Linked DNA regions of Homo sapiens: region 2 is reported to be linked to region 1. The links are microRNA targets in miRTarBase. Many come from high-throughput screens and were not tested one by one. Region 1 holds a microRNA gene; the other region holds the end of a gene's coding sequence.

Region 1 (4,399 bases):
TGCCATGAATTCTGCATCTGCCTTTACCAAAGGGATCTTTCTCCTTAAATTCCTCAGCACGCTGTCTCATCTCCACAAGATTTACATGCCTGCATTATCCTCTTTACCAGAGTAAAAGCTGCTTGAAGGCAGGAAATGTGTTATCTTTTATTCCCCCCAAATAATGAGCACAGTGCCTGGCTCATATTATGAATAAAGGCACCTCCAGCCCCAGCTTTCTGAACTTTGCAGTTACAGGCAACAACAAGGCAGTGAAAACTCCGGCAAATGTCCGTAGGAGACTCCTAGAATTAGCTCCTCTAATGCTCCTCTGTCTGCCTATTTTAACAGTTAAGGAAGACACAGAAAAAATGTTGGCCACTCAGTCCAGGATTCAACCCCAGAGTTTATTTATTATGCATGTTTATGTATTCAGATTGTGAAGGAGGCAATGGGCATGGATTGTAAATTGATGGCAAACTTAATGAAAAGCAGACAAAACAGTGTAAGAAGGCTTAAATGCCTTTTAGAACATGGCAGATATATAAAAAAGTCATAAGAAAGTTTACAATAAAGAAAAGAATGTGGAAGAGTGAGAGTCAAAAAAGATAATTACGTAGAAGATTTTTAAACAGCTTGTCTAATGGAGATGCTGAGTGATTAAGACAAACAGCTTGCCAAACCACCTTGTCACAGGGACATAAATCTGAAAAAGCAGCAGACTCCTCAGAAAGGTCAGACAGATCACATTTAGTTTCAAAAGGAAGAAAACATGAAATTCGTGTGTGTGTGTGTGTGTGTGTGTGTGTGTGTGTATGTGTGTGTGTGTCTGTGTGTGTGTGTATAACCACCGAGAGGCAATGGTATGATATTGATAATCTTTGGAGAAAGAAACCTTCTGTATTGTCAAGTGACTTAAAACTCGAGGCACAATCCAAAACAAGAATTAAATAGCACAGCATAGTGTAGTCAACACCATATGAGAGGGTGCCTTCAGGGCAACACACACTGCTGCCAGAACACCAACCAAAAAATGGACAATCAGGATCTCAAAAGAGATGAGTCACCCAGAGGGTCTCTGTAGGAACAGTCTAGTTTCTTAGCCTTGAACCGAAGTGGTCTTGCCACAGGCAAGGAAAACATTGCACTGTTCCACAAAGTCAATTCTAAATGCATAAGCCATTGAAGCATATTTCTTATGGAATAAAGACTGAGGAGAAATAAAGGTTGAGTAATGAAAGTAAAGATGCAACAAAACTTTTAAAGTGGCCAATCTTGCTCATATAATGCTTGCAACCAAAAGGGAAGAAAGCTCTATTACTCTGGGAAAAAGGTGTTTGGATACACCACTAAAATAGGAAGCCTAAAAGAACCATTGTTTTATAATTCTGAGTTAACTGTGATCCTTTTTCCTTTTTTCCGTTTGTTAACTGATGGTATTTTCTGGAGTGAGTCATGACTTTTTTTTTTTTTTAGTCTAGAGCCAACTTGATAATGCTATTTAAATAAATTAACTAACTAAACTGCAAAGTATAAGCTCTTATGCCCATAAAATAAGAGAAGAACTGGGAAGTTCACCAACAAGGATGAAATAGGAGAGGCATTTAATAAAATTTGGTGACAGAGTCAGGGTAAGGTAACTCTCTCAGTGACACATTTATGTAATGCTAGTCTTCTCTGCATGGGAGACATTACTTTTTGGGGGCAATGCCCTTTTCCTCACCACTGCTTTTCTCCAATCTCTTCTTTGACTTCCTTTTGGGATCCCTGGGTATCCTGCTGTGTTGTTCCAGCCCCGGTGTTTTGCCTGCTATCTCTTTTCAATGTCTGAAGATCAATTATCCCTTCGTGCTAGCATAGGGAGGACAGAAATTCTGGGGACCACAACTTTTCCATTATACTTGAAGGAAAAAAGCAGCTCTCTCCTGTAAGATGGAGAATTCGGAGGTTTCCTCACAGGCTTCTGGTGATGCTTAAAGCAGAGAATCAACCTACAGGGTTTTAGCACAGTGCCTGGCACATGCGGAGTACTCAAAGGATGTGAGCTAATCTTCTTCTTACTATTATTATGTAAGTCCCGTAATTCTCTATGACCCACTATGTGTTCCAGATGATGCCGAAGACCTAGAAAAGTGGCTTTCATCACCATCAGACCTCTCCTCTCCTTCAGACCTCTCCTCTCAGGACTCACCATGTTGGTCAGGCTGCTCTCAAACTCCTGACCTCGTGATCTGCCCGCCTCAGCCTCCCAAAGTGCTGGGATTACTGGCATGAGCCACCACGCCCAGCCCAGACCACCTTTTTGTAACAAATATTTCACACAGGATTTTTAAAAAAGAAATCAATATAATGCCCTAGCTGTAATATAAATACAGGAAAATAACTTACAACAAAATAAGAAGTATTTCTATTTGTAAATACCCAGGCATTACTATACTAATAGATACAACTAAGTAAGTACATGCTTGTGCCTATACAACTGTCACATGCATGTACAATCAACATGCATGTGACACTACATATGCAAACCAATCCACAAGCACTGTAATGACAGCTCAAATACTACAAGTCGCATTACCATGAACACTGTACTCACCCAACTTTCCACCTGTTCCTCTTCCCTAACCCCCTTATGGTTAGGTAGGACTATATGACTATTTCTGGCCGGTACACTATAGTCAGAAGTGATGTACCTCAACTTTGGGTCAAAATATTGATGAGCTGGTATGTGAATCCCGTCTATCCCTGCCCGCAGTGGCTGGCAACGATCCCCATGGTGGAGTCTGGATGCTTGAGTAAGTGGGGCAGAGCCCTCTGTCAATGCTTGATCAACTTTTAGCATAAATAAAAAAGAAACCTTTGTTGTGTTAAACCACCAGAATTTCTAGGTTAATTTGTTACTGTAGCATAATCCTGTCTATCCTTCAATGGTAAAGAACTCTTTTAAAATAAACCCTGATTTTACACAATTATTGTATACTTGGAAAACTCCACATACGTTCAAGCCACACAAAAATACTTTGTGTTCATATGGAAAACTACGTTCAGATAATTATAAATAGGGTGTGCACCTTCACAAATGACCAGCAGGACATTTGAGAGTTTGTGCAGGATCAGGGAGTGTTGTAAAAGACTACGCAATACATTCCAGGATGTTTATTACCCTTGAGTTATCACTGAGATAACCAAAATGCCCCAACAAAGGTTCAAAATGTCCCCTAGGGAAGAATACTACCCCAACTGATGGACACTAACTTGGAGAAAAGATCAACATAACCATGGCTGGCCAAGTTGTATATTTTTACAATTACAATTACAATTATATTGTTATAATTACCATATTGTGGAATTTCATCAATAAGTGATTCATAGATTACAGTGTCTTAGAATCCTGGATTATGTTCTATAAGATGTAAACAAAAATAGGCGAAATAAAAGGGTTCTCTGGTCCCAGATTGAGCAATCCTGGGCTAAAGAGTGCAAATCTTTAGTACATGGAGCATTATGAGTCACGACAAACAAGACACAGTATGCACTGTTCCTCACACTTACTTGAACTGAAGACCTTTTGTTCCAGAGCTTCCTGCGGAACTCACATGCCATAGGCTACACAGCCCTCACCTTTACAGACGAGCAAAATAAGGCTCAGAGGTTTGCGTCAGGCTTTCAGGGAGTTAATAGCAGAGCTAGGCCTAGAACTTAAAATCAATATTCCCAACCATAAAAAGGAATGAAGTACTGACCTAGGCTGCAATGTAAATGGACCTCAAAAACATTATGCTGAGTGAACAAAACCAGACACAAAAGGTCACATGTTGTAGGATTCCATTTGTTTGGAATATCCAGAATAGATGAATCTATAGAGACAGGAAGAAGACTGGTGTTACTAGGGGTTAGGTGGAGCACAAAAGGGGAGCAACTGCCTAACGAGGATGGGGTTTCTTTCTGGGGTGACAAAAATGTTTTAGAACTAGATAGAGGTGGTGGTAGTACAACACTGTAAGAGTACTAAATGTCACTGATGTGTACATTTTAAAATGGTTAATTTTCTATTACGTGAATTGTACCTCATTAAAATAAATAAATAAGGTTTAAAAATTAATATTCTTTACTCTATACTACGCTCTTATCAGCTTGAGCTCCCCAGTGTAGTTGAGAGTAGCATAGCAGTGTCATGTTTTCATACTGCTTTTTTTTTTTGAGACAGAGTTTCGCTCTTGTTGCCCAGGCTGGAGTGCAATGGCGCGATCTCGGCTCACTGCAACCTCCACCTCCCGGCTCCCGGGTTCAAGCGATTCTCCTGTCTCAGCCTCCCAGGTAGCTGGGATTACAGGTGCATGCCACCATGCCTGGCTAATTTTTGTATTTTTAGTAGAGACGGGGTTTCATCATATTGGTCAGGCTGGTCTTGAACTCCTGA
Region 2 (4,399 bases), not on the chromosome of region 1:
AGGGCTGCCTGAACATCATGGTGTCTCCTGTTTTCATATTCGGTAGCTCTAGCTTGGGGCAGTCCCATCCTCTTCGAATGTATCTGGAAATGCATGGGAGCATCTTTTGTAGTCAGTGGAGGGGGTGAATTGCACTGCTGACATTTAGGGCTCAGAGGTCTGGGATACTAACACCTGCTGCAATGCTTATGTTGCCAGTTCCACAGGATGAAAGATCATCTAACCAAAAATGCAAATAGCTATCTTGTTGACAATAGGCTCCTCATCCGTTCAGGATGTGCGAGAGTTACTTTAACATGGGCATGAGCTCAGAGATGGAAGTGACTTGTCAAAAGTGCAGTATACAAGCTGGGCACGGTGGCCCGTGCCTGTATCTCAGTTACTCAGGAGGCTGAAGCAGGATGATCATTTGAACCTAGGAGTTCATCTCATCTTTTTTTGAGATGGAGTTTCACTCTTGTCACCCAGGCTGGAGTGCAACGGCACGATCCCGGCTAAGTGCAACCTCCCCCTCCCGGGTTCAAGCGATTCTCCTGTCTCAGCCTCCCGAGTAGCTAGGATTACAGGTGCCTGCCACTACGCCCAACTAATTTCTGGTATATTTAGTAGAGATGGGGTTTCACCATGTTGGCCAGGCTGGTCTCAAACTCCTGACCAAAGTGTTGGGATTACAGGCGTGAGCCACTGCGCCCGGCTGAGATCCCATCTCTTAAAAAAAAAAAAAAAAAAAAGGGTGGGGGGCATTATACAAAGTGGAGAGTCCTTAAAAAGCTCAGACTTCGTACAGGAAACAGGCCATGCTGGCTGTACCGGTCCTTTTGTCTGGCCAGTGTGGGGAACCTGTGAAACCTTCATAAGGTCATCAATGGTCAGATGACAGTTCAAATTCAAGCTCCATCACTTGCTAGCTGGCTAAACTTGAGCAAGTGTTTTTGGAGCCTGTTTTGTCCATAAAAAGGGAATAATAAACTCAAAAGATTGTGGGGATTAAACAAGGTATCTGAATGTGCCTGGTATACCATCTAGGTAGGGACTAAGTGTTCTGTGAAACGGTGGCTGTTTATCTTGCCATTTTCACAAATGCCACACCTGGCTTTGTGCTTCTTAACCACTTTCTTACAATGATGTTTTAATTCCTGTGAAGAAATAGCCCACAAGGTATTTGTTCTGTCAAAGGCTTGGATGAAATGTTTTCACCCAACTGCTACCTCTTGGACCAACCAAAAAACAAAGAAAAACAAGTCGAAGGGAACTAATAGCAAAATTTAAACCTGAGAAACTAAAAATCTTTGTTAGCACATTATATCCAATTGCATGCTAATTCACCAGTGTTCTTCATTATTTTACACATACTACAAAGAAGAAAAAAAGTTCTTTTCATCATAATCTATGAAATAGAATTCATTAATACCTGAACAATAGTGAAGTGAGCAACAGAGGGTAGTCCTGAGAATTCAGAAGCTGAACAACTACATAGGAAATGCAACTATTTGGTTATAATTGAAATCAGATTAAAAACAGTATGTTTAGGTCAGGCACAGTGACTCATGCCTGTAATCCCAGCATTTTGGGAGGCCAAGGCAGGATTGCATGAGCCCAGAAATTTGAGACCGGCCTGGGCAACAAAGTGAAATCGTGTCTCTACCAAAAAATCAAAAAAATTAGCTAGGCATGGTGGCATCCTCCTGTGATCCCAGTTACACAGGATGAGGGGATGAGGCAGGAGAATCATTTGAGCACAGGAAGTCAAGGCTGTGGTGAGCTGTGTTCGCACTACTGCACTCCAATCTCGGCGACAAAGCGAGACCCTGTCTCAAAATGAAACAAAACAAACCAGTTGTTTGGCTATATATCACACATTCAGGGTCCACAGAATAGAGCTGACCAAAGCCATTGTCAACCTCTCTGCAACAGCAAATTAAGTTTTTTTGAGATGGAGTCTTGCTCTGTTGCCCAGGCTGTAGTACAACGGTGTGATCTTGGCTCACTGCAACCTCCGCCTCCCAGGTTCAAGCGATTACATACGTGAGCCACCGTGCCCGGCCAAGAAGCCTTTCTTTAATAACTCTCCTCTGTAGACAACCTTTTCTTCTTCCAAATTCCTATATATTTTTTTGAATTTACTGTGTAATTTGAGAGTTCAGAGGCTGTATAGTTGAGGTGAAAAGAGGTGCATGACAGACAAGTTAAGAATTGTAATTGAGTCCAGGCCTGGCTTACTGGCAGTCTGGCCCAAAATGCAAACAGCCTTCTATTTTAAAAAAAATTGTTAACAAGGTGCTAAGGAGACATAAATCAGAGTAATCCATATTTGAGATCATCCATTATATCCCAAACCAAAAAAAAGAGACCTCTATGGACCAATGGCTAGGATTCAGAAAATGCTTAACTATAGAAAATAATTCTTTATAGGGTAGTTTTGTAACAGGATTTTACCGTAGCAAATGTGGAATAAAGAAAAGGTTTAGGTTTAGGAACACCCATTAGGGTTTTTTCGTTACTTCAACATAAAGTACCCTTTAATACACGAAGTACATCCTTTAAACAGCCAAGAGAAAGGAGGTTGTACAATAGAGACGTCATGTTTGCTTTCTAAACATTTGTTTGACTCCTGACACAATGGTTTTGCTTTGGGGTAACATGAAGGTTGCCAAACTTCAAAGTAAAAAAAAAGATATTTTCTGACAAAGCAAATGTTCAGTTCAGAGTTGCCTGATGCTGTCAGCATTCCAAGCAAACTCAATAGGAAGAGGTGAAGTCTTCTTCACTGTATAACCATCGGCGTGGCTGCGGTCTACTGCTTCACATCCCATTCTCCAGGGAAAGGAAAAGTGCTCGCTATGATGCATTGTTTAACCAATGAGTGGTGAGATGTGCCTCTTTACCTGAGGGCTTCCAGACTATAGTTCAGCCACCTTGCTCTCTGGGTCATATGTAGTCCTGAAGCATGTACCATGTTATGGAAAGCCAAGTTTCAAGAATTAAAAATGCAGAGTCAGTCACAATCCTGGGTGCTGTGAGGAAGGCTATAAGGCATTCGAACAAATTTTTTTTTTTTTTGAGACAGGGTCTTGCTCTGTCACACAGGCTAGAGTGCAATGGCGCAATCTCGGCTCACTGCAACCTCTGCCTCCCAGGCTTAAGCAATCCCTCCCACCTCAGCCTCCCAAGTAGCCGGAATCACAGGCAGAAGCCACCGCGACCAGCTAATTTTAGTATTTTTTTGCAGAGACGGCATTTGCCATGTTGCCCAGGCTCGTCTTGAACTCCTGAGCTCAAGCGATCTACCCACCTCGGCCTCCCAAAGTGCTAGGATTACAGGCGTGAGCCACCACGCCCGGCCAAACAAAAGATTAATAAAAACAATGTCTACACAGTTCGTGGCAGGGCGTAAAAAGGTAATAAATTTTCAACCGTGAGAGGGGTTCCCCATCACCTAGGGATTGGGCTGCCTTCCTGGAGTGGGGGCTGACATGGAAATCCAATTCTACTGAGGGTCTATGCATGGTAATTGGCAGAAAACATGATAGAACTAAACACTTCAATTCTTCTCGTTTGAGGAAAACAGCTCCTTAGAGAGAGCTTGAGGTTCAAGTCCTTTTCCCATTGTCATCTATTCAGCCATCCACAGCTTGAAGGTCCTGTCATATGAGCAAGTGGCTATGAGCTGCCCATCGGAAGAAATATCTAGGCCCATCACTTTGCCTTCGTGGCCAGCCAGAGTCTTCAGCGGGGACCAGCCTGGGTGCGTCCAGATCTTGGCTGTGTTATCATAGGCACCAGTAAGCAAGAAGTTCCCATGGATAGCTACAGGAGAAGAGAAGGGGAATTGCTTGAGGAATTCAAGTATTCAAAAGAGAAGACAAAAGCACAAAAGTCTGCAAAAACATACTATTTTTAAAAAAACTTGTTTCTACAGACTTAAGGGAACAAATAACAGTAAGGTCTTTTGGCTCATTCCCTGACCGAGAATCTATTCAGAATAATATTAAGGACTCAGTGCTCAGAGCATCCATGGAGGAAAGAATGAAGCAAAGCACTCATGAAAGTCTGCTTTACTTCCTGCAACGAGAAGCGTGCTTTCCCACAGATCTAAGGGTATGGCAGAGGGAAGGAAATTATAATTTGCTCCTTTACCAGTAGGTCAATTTCTCTCCTGTTTTACTGCTCAGTTAAGCTAAAGCCTGGCCTGCATTCCACGGGAACACAATACTGTTTGTCTGTGTCATTTAGACGTAAAATAGGAGGAAAGCTTACGCTCAAACTTGACACCAGTCACTAAGTTCTGATGAGCAGGGATGGTGTAGACGCAACGCCGCTGTCGGAGGTCCCACACTTTGCAGGTGTTGTCACCACTGCCGGTTGCAATGTGATAGCTGTGGATTGGATGCAGTATTGA

What was found. Region 1 holds the annotated microRNA hsa-miR-4295 (CAGUGCAAUGUUUUCCUU, at 1,112-1,129, opposite strand). A microRNA usually pairs through its seed, bases 2 to 8, with sites in the 3' UTR of a target mRNA and lowers its output. Matches are read on the target gene's strand: a 7mer-m8 pairs with bases 2 to 8, a 7mer-A1 pairs with bases 2 to 7 and ends in A, and an 8mer does both.
Region 2: the mRNA of PRPF4 is a reported target of hsa-miR-4295. Seed matches in the 3' UTR shown: 7mer-m8 at 3,093-3,099.

The regions. Positions count from the first base shown.
Region 1 is chr10:112,630,910-112,635,308 of GRCh38, reverse strand. It overlaps MIR4295 (microRNA 4295), which reads right to left and starts at 1,139; the gene lies at 1,055-1,139. The region is part of intron 5 of VTI1A (vesicle transport through interaction with t-SNAREs 1A); the gene reads right to left. It overlaps LOC124902503 (a long non-coding RNA gene), which reads right to left. Exons shown (of 2, transcript XR_007062292.1): 2 at 1-3,836.
Region 2 is chr9:113,290,875-113,295,273 of GRCh38, reverse strand. It overlaps PRPF4 (pre-mRNA splicing tri-snRNP complex factor PRPF4), which reads right to left. Exons shown (of 14, transcript NM_001244926.2): 13 at 4,258-4,376; 14 at 2,369-3,807. The coding sequence ends at 3,614. Among named protein-coding and RNA genes, the nearest start is that of RNF183, 10 kb to the left of the region's middle.